Linked DNA regions of Homo sapiens. The protein of the gene in region 6 interacts with the protein of the main gene of each other region in a pairwise test. Each region holds a gene or a part of one and is shown on either strand. Other genes may lie near its edges. The genes, in order: ALPI, TPM3, TPM4, GOLGB1, GALNT2, NOD2 and TPM1.

Region 1 (3,929 bases), on a different chromosome or scaffold from region 6:
GTTTACCTCCTTCACCATTTTCAAGTGTACAGGGCGGCAGTGTTGAGTACACGCACAGTGTTGTGCAGCTGATCTCCAGAACATTCTCATCCTGCAACCTTGAAGCTCTGTCCCTATTAAACTCCAACTCTAACCCTAACCCCAACCCTAACCCATTGCCTCCTCCCTCAGCCTCAGGCAACCTCCATTCCACTTCTGTCTCTATGTATTTGACTCCCCTCGGGACCTCAGAGAAGTGTGTTCGTGCGTATTTGTTCTTTTGCACTGGTATATTTCACTGAGCATAATGTCCTAAGGTTCATCCATGTTGTAGCAGGTGTCAGGGTCGCCTTTGTTTTCAAGGCTGCGTGATACTCCATTGTATGTGTGCACCCTGTTTGGTTTCTCCATTTCTCTTTTGCTGGACACTTGGGTAGCTTCCAGCTCTTGGCTGCTGTGGATAATGCTGCTGGGAACATGGGTGTGCAGTTATCTGTTCGAGTCCCTAGTTCGCATTCCTTTGGCTACACACTCAGAGTGGGATGTCTGGACTGAAGCAATACTTTTGAACTCAGCCTGAGGTTACCAAACTCTCTGAACTCCTTATCAGAGGCTACACTTCTGGGTGTTCCCCGGGGCCCATGGAAAACAGACTCACCCCAGGCTCCATCTACCTGTGCAAGGGAACAGGGGTCAACCTCAAGTGCACAGGCTGCTCTGGAAGACCCAGCCCAGGTCTGGCTGACCCAGAGCACTGGCCCCTTCCCAGCCTGCGTCCTCAGGACATAGGTGTGGGCACCCATATACACCAAGTGGGTTCTAGGGCAGCCAGGCCACCCAGTGTGCCTCCTTTCACACTCCTCTGGGGCTCGTGACATTACGAGCCCTAACCCGGGCCCTGGCCTAGGCTGTGTGTTTCCAGTCTCACCTCTCTTCACACCTTGAATGAGGTGAATGAAGGAGTGGCAACGCGTCTCCCACAAGACACTGTGAGCCACACCCAGTCCCTTCCCTTCAGCAAGCTTGGCTTCAGGTCACAGGACTGGGCGGGGTCAAGATGGACACCAGGGGTGTGGGGAGGGACGTGGAGCATTTACAGCCAGGGGCAAAGTCCTCCCCTGATTTAAACCCAGGCAGCCTGCGCTGCAGCCGGTTCCTGGTGTCCCCACTTCGCCTCCCTCCTGCTGCCCCCAAGACATGCAGGGGCCCTGGGTGCTGCTGCTGCTGGGCCTGAGGCTACAGCTCTCCCTGGGCGTCATCCCAGGTAATGAGGCTCCCCAAGCTGTTCCACACACAGGGCACCCCCTCAGCCAGGCTGACCTGATCTCTACTCTCCCCCTGGCCAGCTGAGGAGGAGAACCCGGCCTTCTGGAACCGCCAGGCAGCTGAGGCCCTGGATGCTGCCAAGAAGCTGCAGCCCATCCAGAAGGTCGCCAAGAACCTCATCCTCTTCCTGGGCGATGGTGAGTGAGCAAGGCCTGTCCAGCCCCGTAGTCCTCACAGCCCCGGCACCCGGGACCTTCAGTGGTTCCAGGACAACCCTGGGGCCCAGGACTCACACATTTCTGCTCCTTCAGGGTTGGGGGTGCCCACGGTGACAGCCACCAGGATCCTAAAGGGGCAGAAGAATGGCAAACTGGGGCCTGAGACGCCCCTGGCCATGGACCGCTTCCCATACCTGGCTCTGTCCAAGGTAAGGGCTGGGCCACCTCAGAGTCCTCCAAGCAGAGGAGAGGGATCAAGGATATGGAGTGTGGCAGGAGGGAGGGAGCCAGGACAGCTGGGGCCTAAGTTAGGAGCTGGGAGCAGTTAGGATCCCAGAGGACCAGAACCAGGTCCTTGGTTGGGGTCTGGGTGTCCGCCCCGAAGTAGAGCTCAGGGTGTCTCCGTTCGCAGACATACAATGTGGACAGACAGGTGCCAGACAGCGCAGCCACAGCCACGGCCTACCTGTGCGGGGTCAAGGCCAACTTCCAGACCATCGGCTTGAGTGCAGCCGCCCGCTTTAACCAGTGCAACACGACACGCGGCAATGAGGTCATCTCCGTGATGAACCGGGCCAAGCAAGCAGGTGAGCTGGGGCCCGCTGTGGGGTCAGGACCAGGCCCAAGATCTCGGTCACCGATCCTGACCTCTGTCACCCTCAGGAAAGTCAGTAGGAGTGGTGACCACCACACGGGTGCAGCACGCCTCGCCAGCCGGCACCTACGCACACACAGTGAACCGCAACTGGTACTCAGATGCTGACATGCCTGCCTCAGCCCGCCAGGAGGGGTGCCAGGACATCGCCACTCAGCTCATCTCCAACATGGACATTGACGTGCGACCCCCGGGCCAAGGGCTGGGGCTGGGCAGAGGGGAAGGTGGCACAGGCTCAGATCCAGGCAACCAAAAGCCTGATCTGGGTCAGCAGGTTCTGGAGGTGGAGTTGGGGATGTAGAATGTGCAATACAGGCTGGGCCATTCCCACAGCCCTGGGGAGGGGAGCCAGGGGCTATGCATGAGGAGGGGGCACGGGGCCAGCCAGGCCCCCAAACCACCTGCCCCATCCATTGTCCTCAGGTGATCCTTGGCGGAGGCCGCAAGTACATGTTTCCCATGGGGACCCCAGACCCTGAGTACCCAGCTGATGCCAGCCAGAATGGAATCAGGCTGGACGGGAAGAACCTGGTGCAGGAATGGCTGGCAAAGCACCAGGTGATGGGGGCTGGTGGGTGTGGGAGGCACGGCAGGGGGAGGCCAAGTGTGTGGGTCTCAGGGCTGTGGGCTGAAGCCTGGCTCTGTCCCTGCAGGGTGCCTGGTATGTGTGGAACCGCACTGAGCTCATGCAGGCGTCCCTGGACCAGTCTGTGACCCATCTCATGGGTAATGACCCCCTTCCTGCCCTGGCATTCCTCAGACAACCTCAGAGGGTGCCATCCGAGCCTGTGTGCCCATTTGCCAGCACCCTCCCGCTCACAGCCTGCCAATCACCACCAAGCTCCTTGTCCCACAGGCCTCTTTGAGCCCGGAGACACGAAATATGAGATCCACCGAGACCCCACACTGGACCCCTCCCTGATGGAGATGACAGAGGCTGCCCTGCGCCTGCTGAGCAGGAACCCCCGCGGCTTCTACCTCTTTGTGGAGGGTGCGTGGTGGCCCCTGGGGAGTGGAGGAAGGCGGGGCGCGGCAGGGCAGGTTCAAGCATCACCCCCCTCTGGCCTTCCTGCAGGCGGCCGCATCGACCATGGTCATCATGAGGGTGTGGCTTACCAGGCACTCACTGAGGCGGTCATGTTCGACGACGCCATTGAGAGGGCGGGCCAGCTCACCAGCGAGGAGGACACGCTGACCCTCGTCACCGCTGACCACTCCCATGTCTTCTCCTTTGGTGGCTACACCTTGCGAGGGAGCTCCATCTTCGGTAGGCCTGGGGAGAGTGGCAGGTGCTGCTGCATCAATTATGAGGGTGAAGTTTGAGCTTCAGTTTCCTCCTCTGTCAAAAGTGTGCAATGCTGGCACCAGCCCTATAGGGATCTTGTGAGGACCGAGCCCCCGAACAGGCAAAAAGTGGCGGTGCCTGGCACATAGGAGGCACTCCCACAGCTGTGGTCAGCTCAACTACAGGGACCCGCATCTCCCTACAGGGTTGGCCCCCAGCAAGGCTCAGGACAGCAAAGCCTACACGTCCATCCTGTACGGCAATGGCCCGGGCTACGTGTTCAACTCAGGCGTGCGACCAGACGTGAATGAGAGCGAGAGCGGTGAGTGAGGCTGAATGGCCCGTGCAGGGGGACCAGGGTGCCAGGGATGGGGGCATTCGCGGGAGGGGGACGCCGCCTGCCTGCCCTGAAGTGCACTCACCCTCCTACCAGGGAGCCCCGATTACCAGCAGCAGGCGGCGGTGCCCCTGTCGTCCGAGACCCACGGAGGCGAAGACGTGGCGGTGTTTGCGCGCGGCCCGCAGG
Region 2 (3,394 bases), on a different chromosome or scaffold from region 6:
GAAATCAAAGTTTTGATGTGTTAGTGTTTTTTCCTAATCACATTAAAGTAACTATAGCAGTGAATACACCACACTTTGGAAAAAATTGGGTTAGGTTAATTTAGTTTTCTAGGAGAGAATAATCAGGGTCTGAGCTAGAGTAGTGGCAGGAGAGATAGCACTAAATAAAGACAGGCATTGTGAAAGGCCTGGCCACTTGATGTGAGGAGGAAAGACAAGGATGACTGGTTTTTAGAGTAGGAGAATTAGCCGGGTGCAGTGGCTCATGCCTGTAATCCCTGCACTTTAGGAGGCTGAGGTGAGAGGATTTCTTGAATCCAGGAGTTCGAGACCAGCCTGGCAATAAAGTGAGAACCTGTCTCTACAAAATATAAAAACTTAGCCAAACATGGTGGTGCGTGCCTGCAGTCCTATCTACTTGGAGGGCCGAAGCCAGAGGATCCTTTGAGCCCAGGAGTCTGAGGCTGCAGCAAGCTGTGATCACACTGCTGCACTCCATCCTGGGTGGCAGAATGAGACCCCCCCCAAAAAAAGAGTAGGAAAGTGGTGGGGTTAAAGATGTAGGGAGATCATGTTGTCCTGGTTTGGGGAGCTGGGGGAAGGGAAAGAAGATACGGCTGACAATCTGGCAGGTATCTGGGTGAAAACAAAATTCTAGGGCGTGAGGCAGAGAGGTTGACATAAGAGAGTTGGGAATCCATATGGGGTACAGGTAGTTTATGCCATGGAGGTAAATTAGAACCATGAAGGACAATTGCAAATACAAAAAAAAGAGGCCAGGCACGGTGGCTCACGCCTGTAATCCCAGCACTTTGGGAGGCCGAGGTGGGCGGATCACGAGGTCAGGAGATCAAGACCATCCTGGCTGACACGTTGAAACCCCGTCTCTACTAAAAATACAAAAAATTAGCTGGGCGTGGTTGCGGGCACCTGTAGTCCCAACTACTTGGGAGGCTGAGGCAGGAGAATGGCGTGAACCCGGGAGGCGGAGCTTGTAGTGAGCTGAGATTGTGCCACGGCATTCCAGCCTGGGTGACAGAGCAAGACTCTGTCTCAAAAAAAAATTAAACAATGAGGAAAACGTTATGTAAGAGGAGGAACCAAATGGAACTGATTGGAGGGAAAGAAGACGGTTGAGTAGTTCTTTAAAAAGTTCCGGGTTGGATGCTTTCTAGTGGTTTTTCAACAGAGAGGCTAAGAAGGAAGATAACTGAAAATGGGACATGCATTGATACTTTAGTAATTTGAGGGTACATTTTGAGTGTTAAGAAGTGAAGAGGAGGAGTCATTTTCAGGGGCAAAAGAGTGTATTGGTAGGAAGATTATATAGGCAATATAATTTACTTTAGAGCAGGGCTTTCCAACAGAACTTTTGGTAATGATGTCTAGTACATTAGCCACATGTGGCAGTCAAGCACTCAAAACATGGCTAGTGTGGCTGAGGGGCTAAAATTTAATTGTATTTCATTGTAGTTCATTTAAATTTGGCTACCTGTGGCTAGTGGCTATTATATTGGACAATGCATTTCTAAATATTCAGATCCTGGGCAGAAGTTGGCTTTGACATGAAGAAAGACTTCTTAGAAAGGAAGGAAGTAGACCGGGCATGGTGGCTCATGCCTGTAATCCCAACACTTTGGGAAGCCGAGGCAGGTGGATCACAAGGTCAAGAGATCAAGACCATCCTGGCCAACGTGGTGAAAACCTGTCTCTACTAAAAATACAAAAATTAGCTGGACATGGTGGCACATGCCTGTAGTCCCAACTACTCGAGAGGCTGAGGCAGGAGAGAAAAAAAAGAAGGAAATAAGAGGGAGATTGGGAGAAAAGTAAGGTGTTATAGCTCTGATCTGTGGTATCTCCTGTTTTCCTTGCGGTATGACTAGTGTGAGCCAAGGATAGAGACCAACAAACTGGGGTACCAAAGTGGACAATGAAGTACTATGTAATTAGTGCTAATGCTAAATTCATTCCTTTGTTTAAGGCTTAATATCCTTGCAGAAGCCATCCTGTGTTACTTGAGCCTGGACTAGTATTGGGGTGAAGTCAAGCATCAGAGTAAAACATTTGTCCCCTTAATGTTACCCCCTCTTAATTTCTAAGAACCACAGGCCCATTTTGCCCTTCCTTGTTACCATCATTGAGATAAGGAATAAGATGTAGTAACCCCAAGTTATCTGATAGGTACAACTGACCTATTCTGTTTGGCAGCTTTATCTTAGACCTATTCTGTTTGGCAGCTTTATCTTAGCCCCAACCAAATCTCTTCCTTTCACATGGTGTTGGTTGAATACTATCCAACTCCATGGGGTTGGTTTGTGTTTTTTTTTTTTTTTTTTTTTGAGACGGAGTCTTGCTCTGTTGCCCAGGCTGGAGTGCGGTGGTGTGATCTTGGCTCACTGCAAGCTCCGCCTCCTGGGTTTAAGTGATCCTCCTGCCTCAGCCTCCTGAATAGCTGGGATTACAGGCACGTGCAACCAAGCCCGGCTAATTTTTGTGTTTTTAGTAGAGACTAGGTTTCAACATGTTAGGCTGATCTCAAACTCCTGACCTCGTGATCTGCCCGCCTCGGCCTTCCAAAGTGCTGGGGTTACAGACTTGAGCCACTGCACCTGGCCATGGGGTTGTTTCTTAATTAGATATAGCTGAAAAGAACGCTAGACCAAATAGGTTCTCTGCCTTGCCTTTTCGTTTGTTTTGTTTTAGCTATTATCAGGGAACCAAAAACTTTAAGGAGCTAGTACTGGTCTTAATTTTTAATAACTAGAGATAGCAGAGTTAGAAACTAAGTTCAAAGTGAGAGAACAGCTGCATTTGTCTTTCTGACCTCATGCAATTCCTAGGAAACTCTGTGTTCTGTGATTTAGTCAGGCAATAAAATGCTCTCACTCCTTCTCTGTCTCTTTATTTCTTCCCTAAATGGAAAAGAATTGACCAGGCTGCTTTGAGGGATAAAGATCCTGATAACGCGGCTGGGTGCGGTGGCTCATGCCTGTAATCCCAGCACTTTGGGAGGCGGGCAGATCACCTGAGGTCAGGAGTTCAAGACCAGCCTGGCCAATATGGTGAAACCCCATCTCTACTAAAAAAAAAAAATGCAAAAATTACCTGGGCGTGGTGGTGGGTGCCTGTAATCCCAGCTACTCAGGAGGCTGAGGCGAGAGAATCGCTTGAACCTGGGAGGTGGAGGTTGCAGTGAACCAAAATCGTACCATTGCACTCCAACCTGGGCAACAAGAGTGAAACTCAAAAAAAAAAAAAAAAAAAAAGGATCCTGATAACATCCTTCTTTCCCAAGTGAGAATCACACAAACTAACTTGGTTATAGGTATTATCTAAATTCAGGCTGTTCACGAGATCTATATGTAATGTAACATCACAGGAAATTTGAGAG
Region 3 (3,008 bases), on a different chromosome or scaffold from region 6:
GCCAGGCTGGTCCTGAACTCCTGGCCCTAAGCGGTCCGCCAGCCTCGGCCTCCCAAAGTGCTGGGATTACAGGTGTAATTTGGCCACTGTACCTGGCCAAATTTTTGTTATTGTTTGTAGACGGGGTCTCACTATGGTGCCCATGCTGGTCTGCTTTCCTTTGTATGTGTAACTCAGCCTTAGCTAGGCAGATCTTCCTAACTCAGGCAACAGAGATGATTTTCCCTGCTTTTATCTCTTAAAATCCTACTCATTCTTCACAGCCTGGCTTAGGCAGCGTAGGGGATAAGGAAGGCCAGGAGTTTTCGAGTGACCGAGGCTGAGTGCTCTCGCCTGCAATGAGACTGTAATATCCTTGTATCATGAAGTCACAGTATAAAGCAAATAGATAACCTTGTCTACATTCTTGGCTCTGGTTATTTTCCCTTTCCATCCCTTTAACATTTGTTGAACCAAAATGCTCTGTGTACCCCCACACATTCTAAAATTCACGCAAATTGTAGTTTATGTAAAAATTTATTTGACCAAAATGTAGAAAAAGTGATACTATTACATATGATACAGTTGCAAGAATCTAAAGTGTGGATTTTATTCCATTGCACAATTTGCTAGTGTATTTCCTGGGTAGTGTGGTGCTGAATAAATAGGAGTAGGGTGGTGGGGTGGGGTGGGTAAGGGATTCAGATAAGCCAGAAGCAGGGTGATTTTTAGTTGGAATTGTAAACTTTAGTCAGCCCCCACACGCTGCTGGGGAATGTGGAATGTTCTAGCTCTGAGATGTTAACTGAGAAAAGAGAAGTCAAACAAAGCCGATACGTGCAGCCCTGTCTACAGAATCCTTCATTATCCAGTTTAATCAGGAGTTTCTTGGTCTTTTATTAACTTGGTCCCAAAGAAGGAATTCAAGTCCTAGATAAGTAAATCCTCAATTTGCTGTTCCCTGAAGTATGGAAATGAAGTTGGGCCAGTTTTTAATCTCTGCTGCCAGAGAGGCCCTTTCTGCTAATAGATAAAAACTCTTTTGCTCAACTTAGTAATGACTTGTGGTCTTTTGGATATGGCTGACCTGAATTGGACTGAACTCCACCATATTCCTGCTGAGTGGGTCATTACTGGAATGAGACATTTGCTCTTCAGAGAACAACTTTATTTTTATTTTTTCTTGAGATGGAGTCTCACTCTGTCGACCAGGCTGGAGCGCTGTGGTGCGATATCGGCTCACTGCAGTCTCCACTTCCTGGGTTCAAGCGATCCTCCTGCCTCAGCCTCCCGAGTAGCTGGGACTACAGGCAGGCGTCACCATAATTTTTGTATTTTTAGTAGAGACATGGTTTCGCCATGTTGGCTGGGCTGGTCTCGAACTCCTGACCTCAAGTGATCTGTCCTGGCCTCCCAAAGTGTTGGGATTACAGGCGAAAGCCAACGCTCCCGGCCAGGGAACAACTTTAGAATGAAGGAAATATGCAAAAGAACATCACATCAAGGATCAATTAATTACCATCTATTAATTACTATATGTGGGTAATTATGACTATTTCCCAAGCATTCTACGTTGACTGCTTGAGAAGATGTTTGTCCTGCATGGTGGAGAGTGGAGAAGGGCCAGGATTCTTAGGTTGATCTATCTGTGGGTTATGACTTCCCACAATAGCCACCCCCGGCCCCCACCAGTCCTTTTATTGGCTCTGGATGGAAAATCCCTACCCATGTGATGGTCCCTGGTCTCTCCTATAGTTTGACCAACAGTTGACCCAAAAGGTTATGGTCTTCAGCGTTTTAATTATATCCACGACTAGATACTGGGGTCTGTATTCTTCAAAGTGTGGGGCTGCCTATTCTCCCAGGAACCAAATGGCCTCCGTCTTAAGAAAGTATGCTTACTAGGAAATACCCTGCCTACCTTAGGAATAAATGCTACTTAAGGAAAAAATAAGAGAGCTGAAAAAGCTGGTGCCATTTGAAAAAAAAAGGGAAGGAATGAGATTTAACTGGTGCTCAAAGCTTCTCCGATACAAAATATTTGGTCATGTATTCATAATTTGCTTGACATTTCCAGCAAAGCGAAGATGGCAATAACAAAAGGAACTTCTTACAAGAGAAGAGAAAGACCCACGGAGCTCCAGAGTTTCTGTTGGAACAAGACTCTTCTGTTTTGCTTATATACAGTTAAGTTCGTTTAGTGTCTGATCCAGTGTCTGATGTAAGCCCACGTTCTCTTCTTTGGCCTGGGCAAGTTTCTCTGGTGAGGATTAAGAGTATGGGGAAAGATAAATTAATAAGCGTCTTTGTTAAATGAAAGAAAAAAAAAGATTTGTTTTTTTTTCTTCTTCTTGAGACAGGGTCTCATTCTGTCACCCAGGCTGGAGTGCAGTGGCGCGATCTTGGCTCACTGCAACCTTCACCTGCCAGGCTCAAGCAATTCTCCTGCCTCAGCCTCCCGAGTAGCTGGGATTACAGACGCGTGCCACCACCACCCGGCTAATTTTTGTATTTTTAGTAGAGATGGGGTTTCACCATGTTAGCCAGGCTGGTCTCGAGCTCTTGACCTCAAGTGATCCACCCACCTTGGCCTCCTAAAGTGCTGGGATTACAGGTGTGAGCCACCATGCCCAGCACCCCCCCAAAGATTTCTAAACCTGAAACTGCCAGGGTGAAAGTCACAAGAGAGAAAGTACTTTTTTTTTGAGACAGGGTCTCACTCTGTTGTCCAGGCTGAAGTGCAGTGGCGTAATCACGAATCACCGTAGCCTTGACCTCCCTGGGCTCAGGTGATCCTCCCACCTCAGCCTCCCGCATAGCTGGGACTGCAGGTGCATGCCACCACCTGGCCAATTTTTGCATTTTTTCTAGAGACAGGGTCTCACCATGTTACCCAGGCTGGTCTTGAGCTCCTGGGCTCAAGGAACCCATCTGCTCAGCCTCCCAAAGTGCTGGGAATACAGGTGGGTTATAGCCACCATGCCTGTCCAGTACTTTGTATTTTTAATTACAGCAGAACATCACAGAAT
Region 4 (3,500 bases), on a different chromosome or scaffold from region 6:
AGGCTGAGCTGCAGACCTCTGCTTCCCTTCCTCTGACTTTCGAAATTTCTCCAGCTCATTCCACAGGTGATCTCTCTCATTCTGCAGACTGGCCATAGCCTTGGAAAAGGACTGCACTTGGTTATAAGAATCTTCTAGTTGTGAGGACAAGTGAAGCAATTGCTCATCTTTGGATAGGAGCTGTTGGTTAAGTTTCTCAAGGTGAGACAAGCTATTCTCCTCAGTGGAGTTCATTGAAAAGGCGGTTTCAGAAAGAAGAGCATCTCTCTCTCTGTTTAAGAGTCCCTGTTCTTTCAACTGTGCCAATTCCTTCAGACTGGCATCATATTTCCTTTTCAGTTCATCAAGTTCCTCATTGGCATGATCTCTACTATTTTGCAAGGAACTCATAGACCTTCCAAAAGACTGAATTTGTGCTGTGAGACCTTTATTTTCTTTGGTGACCATGAGTAATTTCTGTTCCATCTCCACCAAATCTCTTGCTAGCTCTGCCACTCTCTCTTCTGCTGTTTCAGTTTCATTTCTCATTATCCCTGCATCATGATGAAGATGCTTTAATTCTTTCTTCAGTTTATCTTCAATTTCACCTACCTTCTTGGCAGCTTCCTTTTGAACACAAACCAATTCTTCTTCCAGTTCTGCAATTCTCTTTTGAGAGGAGGAAAACAAAGCACTTAACCTGTGTACCTCTTCTTCTTTTACTTTTAACTGGGCATGATAGAGTCCTAAAGTACCTTCTTCTTGCAAGGCTGTTACTTGTCTTGTTAGCTGGGATATAGATACTTTCAAACTCTCAATCTCTTTAGATAAATCTTGTTTCTCTTCTTGTAGGGCATTAAAGGACCTCCGCAGATCCTCATTTGCTTCCTCAGATTCCTTCAGCTTTTCTTCTAATTTAGCATATTTATTTTCCAGCTCCTTATTTTGCTGAAGTTGAACTTCAAGAAGCTGCTTTTGTTGGCTGTCCTTTATTGTTATCACTTGGTTCAGGTCTTCTCTATATTGGATCAGTTCTGCATCTAGCTTGGCATTCTCAGAATTGAGATCATCCATATGACTTCTCAAGCCTCGTATTTCTTCTTTAAGCTTATTATTCTCTGCAGCAGCCTCTTGGATGAGTTGGTCTTTTTCCAAGATTATAGAGAGATGTCGCTCTTCCAGCTGTTGATAGTCACCCACTATGCGGTCTCGATCATTTTGGAGAGAAGACATGGATTTAACAAAGGAATCCAACTGTGCCTTTTGCTGAATGTTTTCCTTTTTGATGGTTTTCAGTGTTTCCATAAGCTGATTGGTTTTATCAACAGCCTTTTTGTTCTCCTCTTCTAAAACAATATTCTCCTCTTCCTCCTGGGACAGCAGGTTTTCCAGCTCTTTAATTTCTTTATCATGTTGCTGACGCAGTTCAGCAATAGCTACTTGGATTGCCTCTTCCTTGCCAGAAAGCAGGCTTATAATCTTTTGCTCTTTCATATTTATTTCTTCATGCAGCCTACTGGTCAGTTCTCTGGAGGCCTGAAGATCAGTCTCCAGTTGTTCATAACTGAACTTAGAATTTTGAATATCAGCCTCTTGCTGCCTTATGATCCCTTCCAAGTTTCCTTTTTGTTCCTTACATTTTTCTAAAGAGTTACTTAAATCAGTCAACTGGTCTTTGAGACTCTTAAGTTCTGATTCCAACTTAGCTAATTCATTCTGAGAACTGTGGTATAGGTGGCGTGTCTCTTCTAGCTGGGACAAAAGTTCTTTGTTTTCCCCCTGTAGAGTATCACAGACCTTCTGCTGAAGCTGGACCTCTGTCTGGGCCTTGGACTCCCAAATCTGCTTGTCATGTTCAAGCCTGAAACAGAGAGAAGGTCATTAGTTACAGATTTCAAGAAAAAAACTGTGTTTCCCAAGGAACAAATACTATAACATGTACTCAATAGATTTACAAATGAATTAACATTCATAACAGGTGTTAAATATTTTACTGAAGAGGTATTAATTCTCTGCACCTACATGTTTATCTACTGAGTGCTATGTATTAAAGGTATATCATACTTAAGGGTTCATATATTTAAGTCATAAACTCCAAAATATGTCACTTATTTTAGTGACATGGTTTTCAACACTGAAAAGTAACATTTTCTCCTATTTTATTCTACTTTGCTCCAGACAAGCTAACGTTTGGCTTCTCTAAGGGATAATCTTGATATGAAAGACAGTGAGAAAATCTGTTTTAGAACAGAAGGGTCCTATTGGAAGTAAGGAATACAAAGGATGAGAGACATTATTAGTTCTATAGATTAAAAAGTGACAGAAAATTGAAATTTGAGAAAAAATAACTCTAAGAGGTATATGCAGTATGAATTAATGTGGACTAAAGGAAGAAGAAAAGACGAGACTAGACAATTAATTTGAGAGTACTGTGGTAAAAATCCAGGCAAGAGTAGTTGAAATGGAAATGAAAAGAAATACAGAGGCCAGGTGCAATGGCTCATGCCTGTAATCCCAGCACTTTGGGAGGCCGAGGTGGGTGGATCACCTGAGGTCAGGAGTTCGAGACCAGCCTGGCCAACATGGTGAAACCCCCTCTCTACTAAAAATACAAAAAATTAGCTGGGCGTGTTGGTAGGCTCCTGTAATCCCAGCTACTCGGGAGGCTGAGGCAGGAGAATTGCTTGAACCCAGGAGGCAGAGGTTGCAGTGAGCCAAAATCGTGCCATTGCATTCCAGCCTGGGTGACAAGAGCAAGACTCCATCTTAAACAAAACAAAACAGAAGTACAGAAATCTCTCAATAGAAAGATGGGAAGAGAAGATGCGAACTTTTCATGTTCATGCAGTTGTAGCAGGATTGTTGTTTGCCAAAAAAAAGTCAGAAGTGAGAGAGAATATATCTTCCATGGACATTTATGCCAAAATTAGTCCCATTGTCTAAAAGGAAACAGAAATAGTTTAGAGACTTTCTTTGCTTGAAGTTACCTCTGGAGGAGGAAAAATTCACTACTCATTTACCTGGAAATGTTAATCTTTAATTCTTCCATATGGATGGACATCTGTCTAAGTTGATCCTTTAGAACACTGCAATTATCTTCTTTGAGTCTAATTTCTTCTTCTTTGCTTTGAATCGCATCACTAAACTTCCTCTCCCATTTCTTAGCTTCATCTATCACCCTGTCACGATCATCCTGGAGGGAAGACATGCTCTTAGTAAAGGCTGCAAGCTGGGTCACAGTACTGTCCAAGTTTTCCTGAAGTTGCTGAACTTCCTTGTCTTTCTTGTTCAAAGTAACCTGAATCTCTCCAATTGTCTCTTCCAAGTGGACTTTTTCTCTGCGCAAAGCATCCAGTTTCTCTTGCATATTCTTCTTCTCTTTCAGGTGCTTCTCTTCTGCCTGTTCCAGTCTTCGCTCAAGATCTTCATCCTTTTGTTTCATCTGGCTTTTAACTGATTCTTTATTTGACTGAAGTTCCTTTTTCAACTTGAGATTGTCTGCTAGGACCCTTGCTGCTTCA
Region 5 (3,500 bases), on a different chromosome or scaffold from region 6:
AGAAGGTAGTGGGTTTTTCTGTTTGTTTGTTTGTTTGTTTTTTGAGACAGAGCTTTGCTCTTGTAGCCTGGGCTGGAATGCAATGGTGTGATCTCAGCTCACAGCAACCTCTGCCTCCCGGGTTCAGGCAATTCTCCTGCCTCAGCCTCTCGGGTAGCTGGGATTACAGGTGCCCGCCACCACGCTTGGCTAATTTTTTTTTTATTTTTAGCAGAGATGGGTTTCACCATGTCGGCCAGGCTGGTCTTGAACTCCTGACCTTAGGTGATCCACCCACCACAGCCTCCCAAAGTGTTGGGATTACAGGCGTGCGCCACGGCGCCTGGCGGTTGTGCATTTTTATGCCTCTCAGAAAAGGTGTGTATGTGTGCAATGGAAGCAATTAATACTGAGTATCTTCTATCTTAAGCTATTATCTAACAGGCAGGGGCTATAACTAGCAGCCGCCTTAGTGCCCACAGTTAAGAATCTGTTGTATAGGCATACCAGGCAGGAGGTGTAGACATCATATTCTGGGGCCAGACGCAGAGGCAGAATGGGTGCTTTGCGGTTGAGTGCACATGGCCGAGAGGACAGAGCTGGCAGGAAGACCAGGGCCCTGCAACCAGCAACTGTGACCAGTGCACCCTTGCCGCTGCAGCAGAGCCTGGTCCGAAGCTGATGACAGAGCTGATGCACCAAAGTGTGTGACATTCTATCTGGCCCTGGTGCTGGCTGCCAAAGAGGCTGTGGCCAGCAGGAGCCAGGTGCTTCCTCATAGACATCACCCATCCCAGGAGAAAGGTGGCAGCTGGGACTTCTAACATCAGGACCCCCCCAACTCCTGCTCTCTCTGGGCCTGCAGGTGACCTGGCTTCCCCATGCACATACCTGGTTTCCCCCAGCATTGTGACATTCATAAACTCCAACCACACCATCAGCAAAGTGTCCCAAAGTGTCGAGGCAGTTAGTTCCCTGCTGCAAGGCCCCAAAAGCTATATCCTGATGGTCTGGAACCCTGAAAAACAACGTGAGAATCACCTGCTTCACTGCACATGACCACCAGCTCCCGTCCACCAGCCCCTTTGCTCAGTGGCCTCATGACAGGTGACAGGAACGAGAGAAAGACCCAGTGACTAGGCATCGTGCCTCTTCCTACCACAGGTAGTGTGTGTCAGGGACACGGCATTTCTCCCAGGCTCTGGACTTCCAACACTTTAAGACTGTATGTTGCAGAAGTATTCTTTATATTCTATATCAGGTCATTTTTTTTTTTTTTTTTTTTTGGAAAGGAAGGAAAAGCTCCTGATACTCTTCAATGTTAGTCTTATTGGAAGTCATTTAGAAAATCAATGTGGTCAGATCCTGTTGCCTTGAACTTTCCAATACACTTAGGATCTGACCTTTATCCAGTAAAGACGGGAAAGGTGGGCAGACTTGTCAGGTGGTCTAATGTGAACAAAGCCACAGCCACGGGGAAGAACAACGTGCTTCAGAACCAGATCCAAACCTCAGCCCACCTCTGCCAGGTGCTGGCTTTCAGGCAAGACTCACTTTCTCTGAAGCTCGATTTGCCCTTTGGTAGGCTATGGGCTACCCAGATCTGCTGCAAGTGTTACATAGAACATTTCGTGTAAAGCACACGGCCCAGTGCCTGGCTCGTAGGAGGCACTCAGTAAACGGCGGTGATATTACAGACACAAAACACGAGGCTGATGTCTCCCTCACCCCCCACAGACAGGGGAAGCAGATTTGCCAGCCAGGATGGTGCTCAGTGCCTCAGATGTGGTCTTCAGTGGGTGCGGGGCCCAGTGTCACTACAAACCATGGGTGACCTCTGTGAGAAATGGCAGTCAACTGTGACTGAAAAAGCAAAGTGAGTGGCATGGTTGGGTTAAAATCCACTGAATTGAAGCCCCTCTTTGGCTGACGGAGAGTTGATGAGCAGCCGCCTTAGTGCCCACAGTCAAGAATCTGTTGTATAGGGACACCAGGCAGGAGGTGTAGACATCATATTCTGGGGCCAGACACAGAGGCAGAATGGGTTCTTTTGGGTTGAGTGCACATGGCCGAGAGGACAGAGCTGGCAGGAAGAAGACCAGGGCCCTGCAACCAGCAACTGTGACCAGTGCACCCTTGCCGCTGCAGGTGACCATCGCTGGTGACCATCTGGTGCTCTCAATCCCCAGCAAAAGCTGTCCTGCACGGCAGGGATCCGAGGGAGAAGGACGCTGTGTTCTCTCCTGTTCTCCTCCTAGGGGGCATGGGCCACCTGGCGCCTGGCATGTTACTTGAAAAGCAGAGGAAACGGTTCCAAAGAGCCAAGTGAGCGAACAGGAGCAACAGAGAGAGGCCGCATTACCTAACTGTCCAACAAATCTCCGTGACAAGGGCTCTGAAGGAGCTGTTAGCGGAAAGATAATGGTGGCAAGTCTTGCGTTCGCAGGCACTGTGCTGGAGATATGTGAGCCGCTGTAAAATGCTCTGGGAATATTTAGAATAAGGAATGTGCCGCATTAAGGCACGACCTGCCTGACAGTCCCTTTAAGAAGATGAAGTGCAGATGGCTCCTCCACCCCAGCGGATCTATAGGTCTTCTCACGAGGTTATCAGCAGGTCCCTCCAGATGGGGAGCTCGTATTCGCTTAAAACAAGAGGCTGGGTGTGGAAATAATGCTCAGAAAGGTGTTTCTGCCATGAATCCTCCGGAGGGACGTGGGGCAGCAGCATTATTACTTCCGTTTCACATGTGATTAACCTAGCTGGGAGGAGGGAGCCTCGTGGGGGCTGTTATCTGCTGGCCCACAGGAGCAGCAAGGGTGAGCGCAGCAGATCGGAGGCATGCAAAGGCGCCTGGCGGGGGGATCGAGGGCTGGCTGCAGACACTGCATGCTTGCGGAGGCTGGGGACTGCTCCTGGTCACTCGAAGAGCCTGTCAGACACCAGTCCTTCAGGTCACCCAGCCCATCACCTTGCCAATGGAGAACAAGCCAAAAACAAGGTGAGGCCCGGGGGACTGCCTCTGGGACTCCGAAGCATGGGAGGGCAGCTCTGCAGGACAGAGACAGCAGCAGGCCAACTTGGGAGCAGATTCTCAGCTCCACACCATGGAGTGAGACCACAGGCTCTCACTGGGGCCCAGGTGCCCAATCTCATGCCTGCAGCCCCACCTCCATTTCCCCTCTGCTGCTTCTATGGCCTTACTGGCTTCTAAGCCCTTACAAAGTGAAACCCCAGATCCCTGGGGACTTACCTTAACTCTGGATAGACATTTTCAAGGTACCATTTGAAAGGCTTGCAGCTGAGTTTCTTCCTAAGCTCCAATCTGCTCTGAATACTGGAGAAGAGGGAAATAAGATTCCTTTATAAATTTTAAGAATAGATGGGCTTTCTACATCAAACTTGAAAATCTGCTGAGGAGAACAGGGTTGGGGCAGGTGGTGTGGTGTGGACTGCCCATGCTCCTGTGCCCACAACCCCTTCCCGCCTTGGCACCTGGGTAGCTGAATTCAACGCTGGGG
Region 6 (3,500 bases):
GTGCCTCATGAGCTGAGTGAAAACCAAGAAAATCGTCATTTTGAAGTGTCATCTTCTCTTATTCTACACAACAACAGCGAACCATTTCTTGATCTGATTGTGACGTGCGATGAAAAGTGGATTTTATACAACTGGCAATGACTAGCTCAGTGGTTGGACCGAGAAGAAGCTCCAAAGCACTTCCCAAAGGCAAATTCGCACCAAAAAAAAAAGGTCATGGTCACTGGTGGTCTGCTGCTAGTCTGATCCCCTACAGCTTTCTGAATCCCTGCGAAACCATTACATATGAGAAGTATGCTCGGCAAGTCAATGAGATGCACTGAAAACTGCAACACCTGCAGCCGGCATTCGTCAACAGAAAGGGTCCAATTCTCCACGACAACACCCGACTGCATGTCACACAACCAAAGCTTCAAAAGTTGAATGAATTGGACTATGAAGTTTTGCCTCATCCGCCATATTTACCTGACCTCTAGCCAACTGACTACCATTTCTTCAAGAATCTTGACAACTTTCTGCAGGAAAAATGCTTCCACAACCAGGAGGATGCAGAAAATGCTTTCCAAGAGTTTGTTGAATCCCGAAGCATGAATTTTTATGCTACAGGAATAAACAAACTTATTTCTTATTGGCAAAAATGTGTTGATTTTAATGGTTCCTATTTTGATTAATAAAGATGTATTTTAGCCTAGTTATAATAATTTAAAGTTCATGGTCTGAAACCACAATTACTTTTGCTCCAACCTACAACTCACTTTTGTTAGCTACATTCTCTCAGTGAATGCTCATGGCCTATAATGAAGGTCCAGCCATTATCTCCATTTACACTTGAGGCAACTGAGGCACTCATCCAAGAAGAACTGGCTGGTAATGGTGGAGCAGGGGTAAGACCCAGGCTGTCTGGTTCCAGAGCCTGGACTCTTTTTTTTAAATTATTATTTTTCTCATCCTTTTTTTTTTTTTTTTTGAGATGGAAGTTTCTCTCTTGTCCAGTCTAGGGTGCAATGGTGTGATCTTGGCTCATGGCAACCTCCACCTCCCAGGTTCAAGTGATTCTCCTGCCTCAGCTTCCTGAGTAGATGGGATTACAGGTGTATGCCACCACGCCCGGCTAATTTTGTATTTTTAGTAGAGATGGGGTTTCTCCATGTTGGTCAGGCTGGTATGGAACTCCCCACTTCAGGTGATCCACCCGCCTCAGCCTCCCAAAGTGCTGGGATTACAGGTGTGAGCCACTGCACCCAGCAAGCCTGGGCTCTCAACCAACTCTTGGCAGAAACTAAGCCTGGAAAAGAAAGATGTAGGCATTTCTCTTTTTTATAAAAGATATATCAGAAGTTCAATTTTTGTGGGGGATGATATAGTTTAGGATGCTGAAAAATAAGGCTGATGACAGGGTGGCATGGGACCAACCCCAGCCTCATTGCCTGGCATCCATGGGAGTCAAGTGGAGTAAGGCTGTGACAAGGAGGGAAGACAAACCTGCCATATCCACACCTGGTTGATAATGGGCTTGGTATTCCCAAAGGCCGACCCTCAGTGCAAAGCTGGCATCTGGCTCAGACACATCCGGGCTTCACCCCAACTTCCCAGCCCATTTCCACCCAAATAATTAGTGGAAGTGTTTTCTCCAAATATTTGGAAACTTCCTAGCTTGTGAAAGCAACACAAATGAGTGTCGCCAGAGTGGGTAGCAGCCTGGCAGCAAAGCTGGCACTCACAGAGGCAGCTGTCTGTCTGTCTGTCTCTAAAGGCAAGCGTTTTCCTAGGACCACATTTGCCTAGGCAGATGCCACTTTCCTCCAGCAAAAGGAGCCATCTGATGGGGTTCCTGAGGTCTACTTGAAATAAGAATTTTGGCATCAGCCTCAGAGAGCACCCTGACAAACCCATGATGGTCACTAGGTGGGTTCATGTTCACCTGAGCTGTCCATCTCTTTGTGGCACAAGTCCCAAGCCACTGAGTCAGCCACTGGAGGAGGCCACAGTACTCCCCATCACATCACCTCCCCAGCCACTGCTTGCAGAGAAGACCTTCCACTCTCTGCCTGAGGCCATTCTCCTGACCCCAGAAGCATGTTCAGCTGGGTGAGGGTGAGCTGGAAGTGCTGGAGAATCAGTGCCCCATGAGCGCACATCAACATAGGAAGGACAGAGGGTTGGTGGATAAATGCCATGGCTTTCTTGCCCATTGGTTGGGTAGGTGACCATGTGTGTTCTGCACTGGCTCCAGGAGTGCCCCAGAGTACTGAGCTCCAATTTCCCTCATTGATAACTGGCTTGATAACTCCCCTTTATTGGTTACCTTCACTTCCCCATCTCACTTCACCACTCTCCTATCAGCATTTACTGGGACCACCTCCCAGATAAACAACTTGCACTGGAATCCTTGTCCACCTAGACCAAGGCAAGCTGTTCTACCAGGCCACCTCACATGAGTTAGCCCAGCGGAGAGCGGCCCAGATCTTATTCAGAAATGCCCCTTCCAAAGGCCAGCAATTATTGTCCTGTTTCCTGCTTATGGGTTCCTTACTTCAGGATTTTCAAACTTGAATTTTTCTTCAGTCCTTCTGCGAGAGAACATACACCTTCATCCTGGAGATGGTTCTCCTCCAGGCTGGTGAGAAGAAGAGAGAAAATCCAGTTGATACAACATTGATTATGGAAGATGATGAACTCACATGCCCCCCATATAGGAAATCCAACATCTGAAAACCCAAACTCATGGATAAAGAAAGAACAGATAAAGTACGTTGTGGGGATTCTCAATTCCAGGGACATATTTGCAAGAGAATTCACTCCAAGGGCTCTCAATGTAATAAGTTCCCTGATCCCCCAGCTTCCTGATCTCCATCTTTCCTTTCTTCCTTATTAATGGAAGTCTCATTTCATTTGGACAGCCATGCACTTGGTGAAAAAACTGTATTTCCCACTCTCCATTGCAGCCAGGGCTGGTCAAACAACATACAAGTGGGTTGGTCAAGTGACATACACATGGTTGATACATAAGGGGAAGTCGACAGGTGGGGCTTCCAGGAATGCTTTTTAAAGGAGAGAACCCAGATGGCTTTCCTGGGTATATAGATCGAATCCGGGAATACAGAAGTAGTGCTGCACCTGGAGCAGCCATCCTGTGATCATGAGACAACCAACCATGTGAATGAAGTCACAGGCTAAGAATGATGGAACAGGAAGAGAATGAGACAGAGCTGAGACCCCTCCTGGCCTCTTGTAGCCACTGTACAAACCCTACACTGCCTACATCCAGCTGCCTATACAGGAAAAAATAAACCCTTTCCTTGTTTAAACCTCTATAGATGGAGGTATTCTGTCACCTGCAGCTTAACATATAGTTAAACTAAATTTGGCCTGAGACTGCCTCTGTACTTTGAGTTCCTATGTAGCAAACTGCAACCTAACAACATATCCTTATAACAAACAGCTAAGTCTTAGCCAATCACAGCAGCCAGGCTTCAGTCAGTCACAGTCTACCAGCTGAT
Region 7 (3,466 bases), on a different chromosome or scaffold from region 6:
GTACAGTCTTGATTCCCGAGTGAGGCCATCTGCTTTGTTGGCAGAAATGGGTGGTTTTGAGAAGCAGAGTTCCTTTGTGTCCAGAAAACGGTTCTAATTTTAATCCTGCTAGGGGATCCCAGGCTTTATCAGGAAGCCAATCAGTAGCACTGCGAAGAAGGACCAAAACTCCTCTCCCCCAGCCACAAAGACCCGGACAAAAGATCTTTGGCCGGAAGGGAGAGTTGGGCCCTGTGTCTTGTGAAAGGAGGCTCTCATGCTGTCATGGTGCAAGTCATTTCTTCCCAGAGTGACCTGGCACATCCAGATTGGGCAGCTTAGAGACCACAGACAGTTTCTCAGTGGATTCACAGAGGCCTCTCTCCTCAAGGGTGGTAGAAAACTATTATCAACGCAGGTTTTCAGCAGAATTTGCTCCTGGTCGTGTCCCCATGAAAACAGCCTCCTGTGATAAGAGGCAACTTGATTATTAAGGTTTCTGTTTTTTCCTTATTGGATCACATCGTGGCTATCCTGAAACAGCATTGCCCCTCCTTTTTATTACCATTATTACCTTCAGATTACACTATGCTCACAAGTTTTGATCTGCTTCAGAGGCTCCCTTCCTCTCTCTGGTTCTTCCACTAAATACAAATTTGATTTTGTCAGTTATCTCACCAACTTGTCTCACGTTAGTGTCTCTTGTATTCTTCCACTGCAGTAAGGAGGTAGATGCACAGATCAGCCATCAAATTGATGGAGTTCTTAGGTTTACTTTGTTTTCCTGGCAGCCCCCACCTTTTTAGTACATGTCTCATCCTACTGCTGTTTTTGAGATTGTGAATGTGTATTTTATCCCTCCTTCCACATTTTGGTCTGGCTGCCGGTTCACCTAGGTCAGACTTCCAATTGAGACTGCCCAATCACAGCTAACCATTCTGAGTCAAAGCAGAAGCCTCTGATCTCCTCTCTGCTGGCACTCCTAATAGAGAGTTGCTTCTCTCTGGTCTACCAGAAAGAGGATCATATTGTTTGTAGACAAAACCCTTAGGGCCTGATGGGATCTGATCTCTACCCCCATGCCCTTCTGTTACACAAAGCTTGCAAGACCCATGGTGTGTGTGTTGTGTCTTCCTGCTGCAGGTGGCCCGTAAGCTGGTCATCATTGAGAGCGACCTGGAACGTGCAGAGGAGCGGGCTGAGCTCTCAGAAGGGTAAGCGGGCCCGGCGCCAGGAGGCCACGAATGGGGTGCTGCAGAGCAGTGACTAAACAGCATGACCTTCTGGCAGCTGCACATTACCTGTTTCAGCTCCGGGCTCCTTTTGTGCTCATTTGATGTGGATGAGCCACGAGTATGGAACATGGAGGACTCGTGTGGGGTGTCTTATGTATGAATGCGTGTATCACTGCATGCCTTACCTGCACACTGATTTTGTGAATGGCCTTGTGCATTTCCTGTGTCCACTAACAGCCAAGTCCGACAGCTGGAAGAACAATTAAGAATAATGGATCAGACCTTGAAAGCATTAATGGCTGCAGAGGATAAGGTACTGATGGCTCGTGTGGTTTTTAGGTTTAACTGCAACCCAGACATCTTTCAGCTTCCAATGCCTCCTGGTTCGTTTGGTATAACGACTGCACCTTCACTTCACCCTCTGCTATTTATATCTTGCCTTAAGTGCTTTCCCTTGGTCCTTTATGCTCCTTTGTTTTCCCTTCATAAATGCTCTTTGGGCAGCCAAAAAAGGAGCCAAATTATCGCACTTCAAAGTTGTTGGATTTGGTCACCCTGCCTTCTGCTGTTGCGAGGTTGGGGGGCAGTGTTCCTGGAAAACCTAAACATTTTAATACCTGATGATTTGGCTACTTTAAGGCAGCCCTTCGTCTCTAGGACTCAGTTTTCATTTTTTCCCATCCCTCTCCTTTTTCTCTCCTCCTTCCTTTGGCTTGTCTCCCACCCTTTCTGCCTCTGATCGAAAACATTAGCAAATGTGCCGAGCTTGAAGAAGAATTGAAAACTGTGACGAACAACTTGAAGTCACTGGAGGCTCAGGCTGAGAAGGTAGGCCAGGAGGATGGTGTGGGGGAAAGGCATCTTTTAAGAGCTGCTCAAAAGAGGCCCTGCCAGAAAGCAACACTTACAGTAGACATTTTAGTAAAATGGCAATATTGTGAGGTGATTTTTGGAGAGTTACTAGATAACAAATTCTTTTTTTTAACTAGAGAATTTATTTTATGTTAGGGATATGAGGCATCAATTTAATTTAAACCAAGTGCCAAGTGGATAAGTTATCTTGTTGTTATCCCATGTAAAACAATAGGCAAGAAAGCAGAGAATGTATTGCAGTGTGCCATTTGATATCAGAGGTTCCATTACCTCCTAAGAGATCCTTAACATCTGTTGGCTGAGCTGGCGAGTTCTTTGCATGAGAAGCCATGAGTAGATTGAGCTGCAGCCTGACATCTGGAATGCTCTTTCTAATTACAGTACTCGCAGAAGGAAGACAGATATGAGGAAGAGATCAAGGTCCTTTCCGACAAGCTGAAGGAGGTAATATGAGAGTTGTGGATGAAGCCAACTGGATTTTAAATGAGTTTGTTTTCATGGAACCGGTCAGGGCCTTTTCATTTTAAAGTTCCAATGATCCAAGTCAGGAATATTCAAAGGTCGCCTTGGAGTTTATGTACTGTGCTAACTGCCATTTCTCACAGAGGTGACTGAAACTGACAAGTAGTTTCTGATCCATTTTATAGGTGATGTGCTTCATTTTCATCCTCTAGTTTTCCCTATGTTTGTAGCTACAGGAAACATAAAACTTCCCAACTTTAACTCAAATAAATCATTACAGGCTGAGACTCGGGCTGAGTTTGCGGAGAGGTCAGTAACTAAATTGGAGAAAAGCATTGATGACTTAGAAGGTAAGATCTTAAGTAGTGTTTTTAGTTTAATCCTTATGGTTGAATACCAACCTGGCAAAACAATTTTCCAATTCAAGGGCATCCACATTGATACGCTCCTTTGCACTTGCACATTCTTCCTGTGTGTCCTCTGGGGTTTTTCTCTGTGGCTCTTGAACTCATGAACCTAAGTCTTCTGCTCACGAGGTGACTAGTTAGCCACCAGCCATAGTGGCAAATGCCATCCAGCTTGACTTCATGCTCATTACAAGTGTGGCAGGTTTATTTTTCACTGTGAGTGAGGTGCTTATTGGTGAGAATGACTCTAGTATATTTTATATCTTTAGTGTTACTTCCTAATTAAATTGGGAATGATGTGGTGATTGTGGTCTTGTTTTTAGAAGAACCCATCTTCTTCCAAGTATGAATTCAAAGTAAGGATTTAGGGGTTATTTTAAGTCATATATTATCTTAACAAAATACTTTATATCCTGAAGGAGGAGGGAAAAATTATACTTAAGCATTTCTTCCCTAAGGCACTTAGGTTTTATTTTAGTAATAACCACTCTATCTCACAGATATCCTAAA

Evidence for each region.
Region 1: the proteins of NOD2 (region 6) and ALPI interact in a two-hybrid assay, tested with the Homo sapiens proteins (one large-scale study listed by BioGRID).
Region 2: the proteins of NOD2 (region 6) and TPM3 interact in a two-hybrid assay, tested with the Homo sapiens proteins (one large-scale study listed by BioGRID).
Region 3: the proteins of NOD2 (region 6) and TPM4 interact in a two-hybrid assay, tested with the Homo sapiens proteins (one large-scale study listed by BioGRID).
Region 4: the proteins of NOD2 (region 6) and GOLGB1 interact in a two-hybrid assay, tested with the Homo sapiens proteins (one large-scale study listed by BioGRID and IntAct).
Region 5: the proteins of NOD2 (region 6) and GALNT2 interact in a two-hybrid assay, tested with the Homo sapiens proteins (one study listed by BioGRID and IntAct).
Region 7: the proteins of NOD2 (region 6) and TPM1 interact in a two-hybrid assay, tested with the Homo sapiens proteins (one large-scale study listed by BioGRID).

The regions. Positions count from the first base shown.
Region 1 is NC_000002.12:232,455,024-232,458,952, forward strand, and holds the start of ALPI (intestinal-type alkaline phosphatase precursor), read left to right. Parts: upstream 1-1,129; 5' UTR 1,130-1,176; coding exon 1,177-1,243; intron 1,244-1,325; coding exon 1,326-1,442; intron 1,443-1,556; coding exon 1,557-1,672; intron 1,673-1,875; coding exon 1,876-2,050; intron 2,051-2,126; coding exon 2,127-2,299; intron 2,300-2,541; coding exon 2,542-2,676; intron 2,677-2,771; coding exon 2,772-2,844; intron 2,845-2,974; coding exon 2,975-3,109; intron 3,110-3,193; coding exon 3,194-3,385; intron 3,386-3,608; coding exon 3,609-3,725; intron 3,726-3,836; coding exon 3,837-3,929. UniProt on the Homo sapiens protein: Alkaline phosphatase that can hydrolyze various phosphate compounds.
Region 2 is NC_000001.11:154,161,313-154,164,706, reverse strand, and holds the end of TPM3 (tropomyosin alpha-3 chain), read left to right. Parts: 3' UTR 1-2,894; downstream 2,895-3,394. UniProt on the Homo sapiens protein: Binds to actin filaments in muscle and non-muscle cells. Plays a central role, in association with the troponin complex, in the calcium dependent regulation of vertebrate striated muscle contraction.
Region 3 is NC_000019.10:16,100,495-16,103,502, reverse strand, and holds the end of TPM4 (tropomyosin alpha-4 chain), read right to left. Parts: intron 2,240-3,008; coding exon 2,157-2,239; 3' UTR 501-2,156; downstream 1-500. UniProt on the Homo sapiens protein: Binds to actin filaments in muscle and non-muscle cells. Plays a central role, in association with the troponin complex, in the calcium dependent regulation of vertebrate striated muscle contraction.
Region 4 is NC_000003.12:121,690,742-121,694,241, forward strand, and holds part of GOLGB1 (golgin subfamily B member 1), read right to left. Parts: coding exon 3,000-3,500; intron 1,841-2,999; coding exon 1-1,840. UniProt on the Homo sapiens protein: May participate in forming intercisternal cross-bridges of the Golgi complex.
Region 5 is NC_000001.11:230,262,738-230,266,237, reverse strand, and holds part of GALNT2 (polypeptide N-acetylgalactosaminyltransferase 2 precursor), read right to left. Parts: intron 3,317-3,500; coding exon 3,233-3,316; intron 998-3,232; coding exon 871-997; intron 1-870. UniProt on the Homo sapiens protein: Catalyzes the initial reaction in O-linked oligosaccharide biosynthesis, the transfer of an N-acetyl-D-galactosamine residue to a serine or threonine residue on the protein receptor.
Region 6 is NC_000016.10:50,724,606-50,728,105, reverse strand, and holds part of NOD2 (nucleotide-binding oligomerization domain-containing protein 2), read right to left. Parts: intron 2,618-3,500; coding exon 2,534-2,617; intron 692-2,533; exon of another isoform or gene 1-691. UniProt on the Homo sapiens protein: Pattern recognition receptor (PRR) that detects bacterial peptidoglycan fragments and other danger signals and plays an important role in gastrointestinal immunity.
Region 7 is NC_000015.10:63,059,747-63,063,212, forward strand, and holds part of TPM1 (tropomyosin alpha-1 chain), read left to right. Parts: intron 1-1,122; coding exon 1,123-1,193; intron 1,194-1,451; coding exon of another isoform or gene 1,452-1,527; intron 1,528-1,966; coding exon 1,967-2,042; intron 2,043-2,468; coding exon 2,469-2,531; intron 2,532-2,829; coding exon 2,830-2,899; coding exon of another isoform or gene 2,900-3,063; exon of another isoform or gene 3,064-3,466. UniProt on the Homo sapiens protein: Binds to actin filaments in muscle and non-muscle cells. Plays a central role, in association with the troponin complex, in the calcium dependent regulation of vertebrate striated muscle contraction.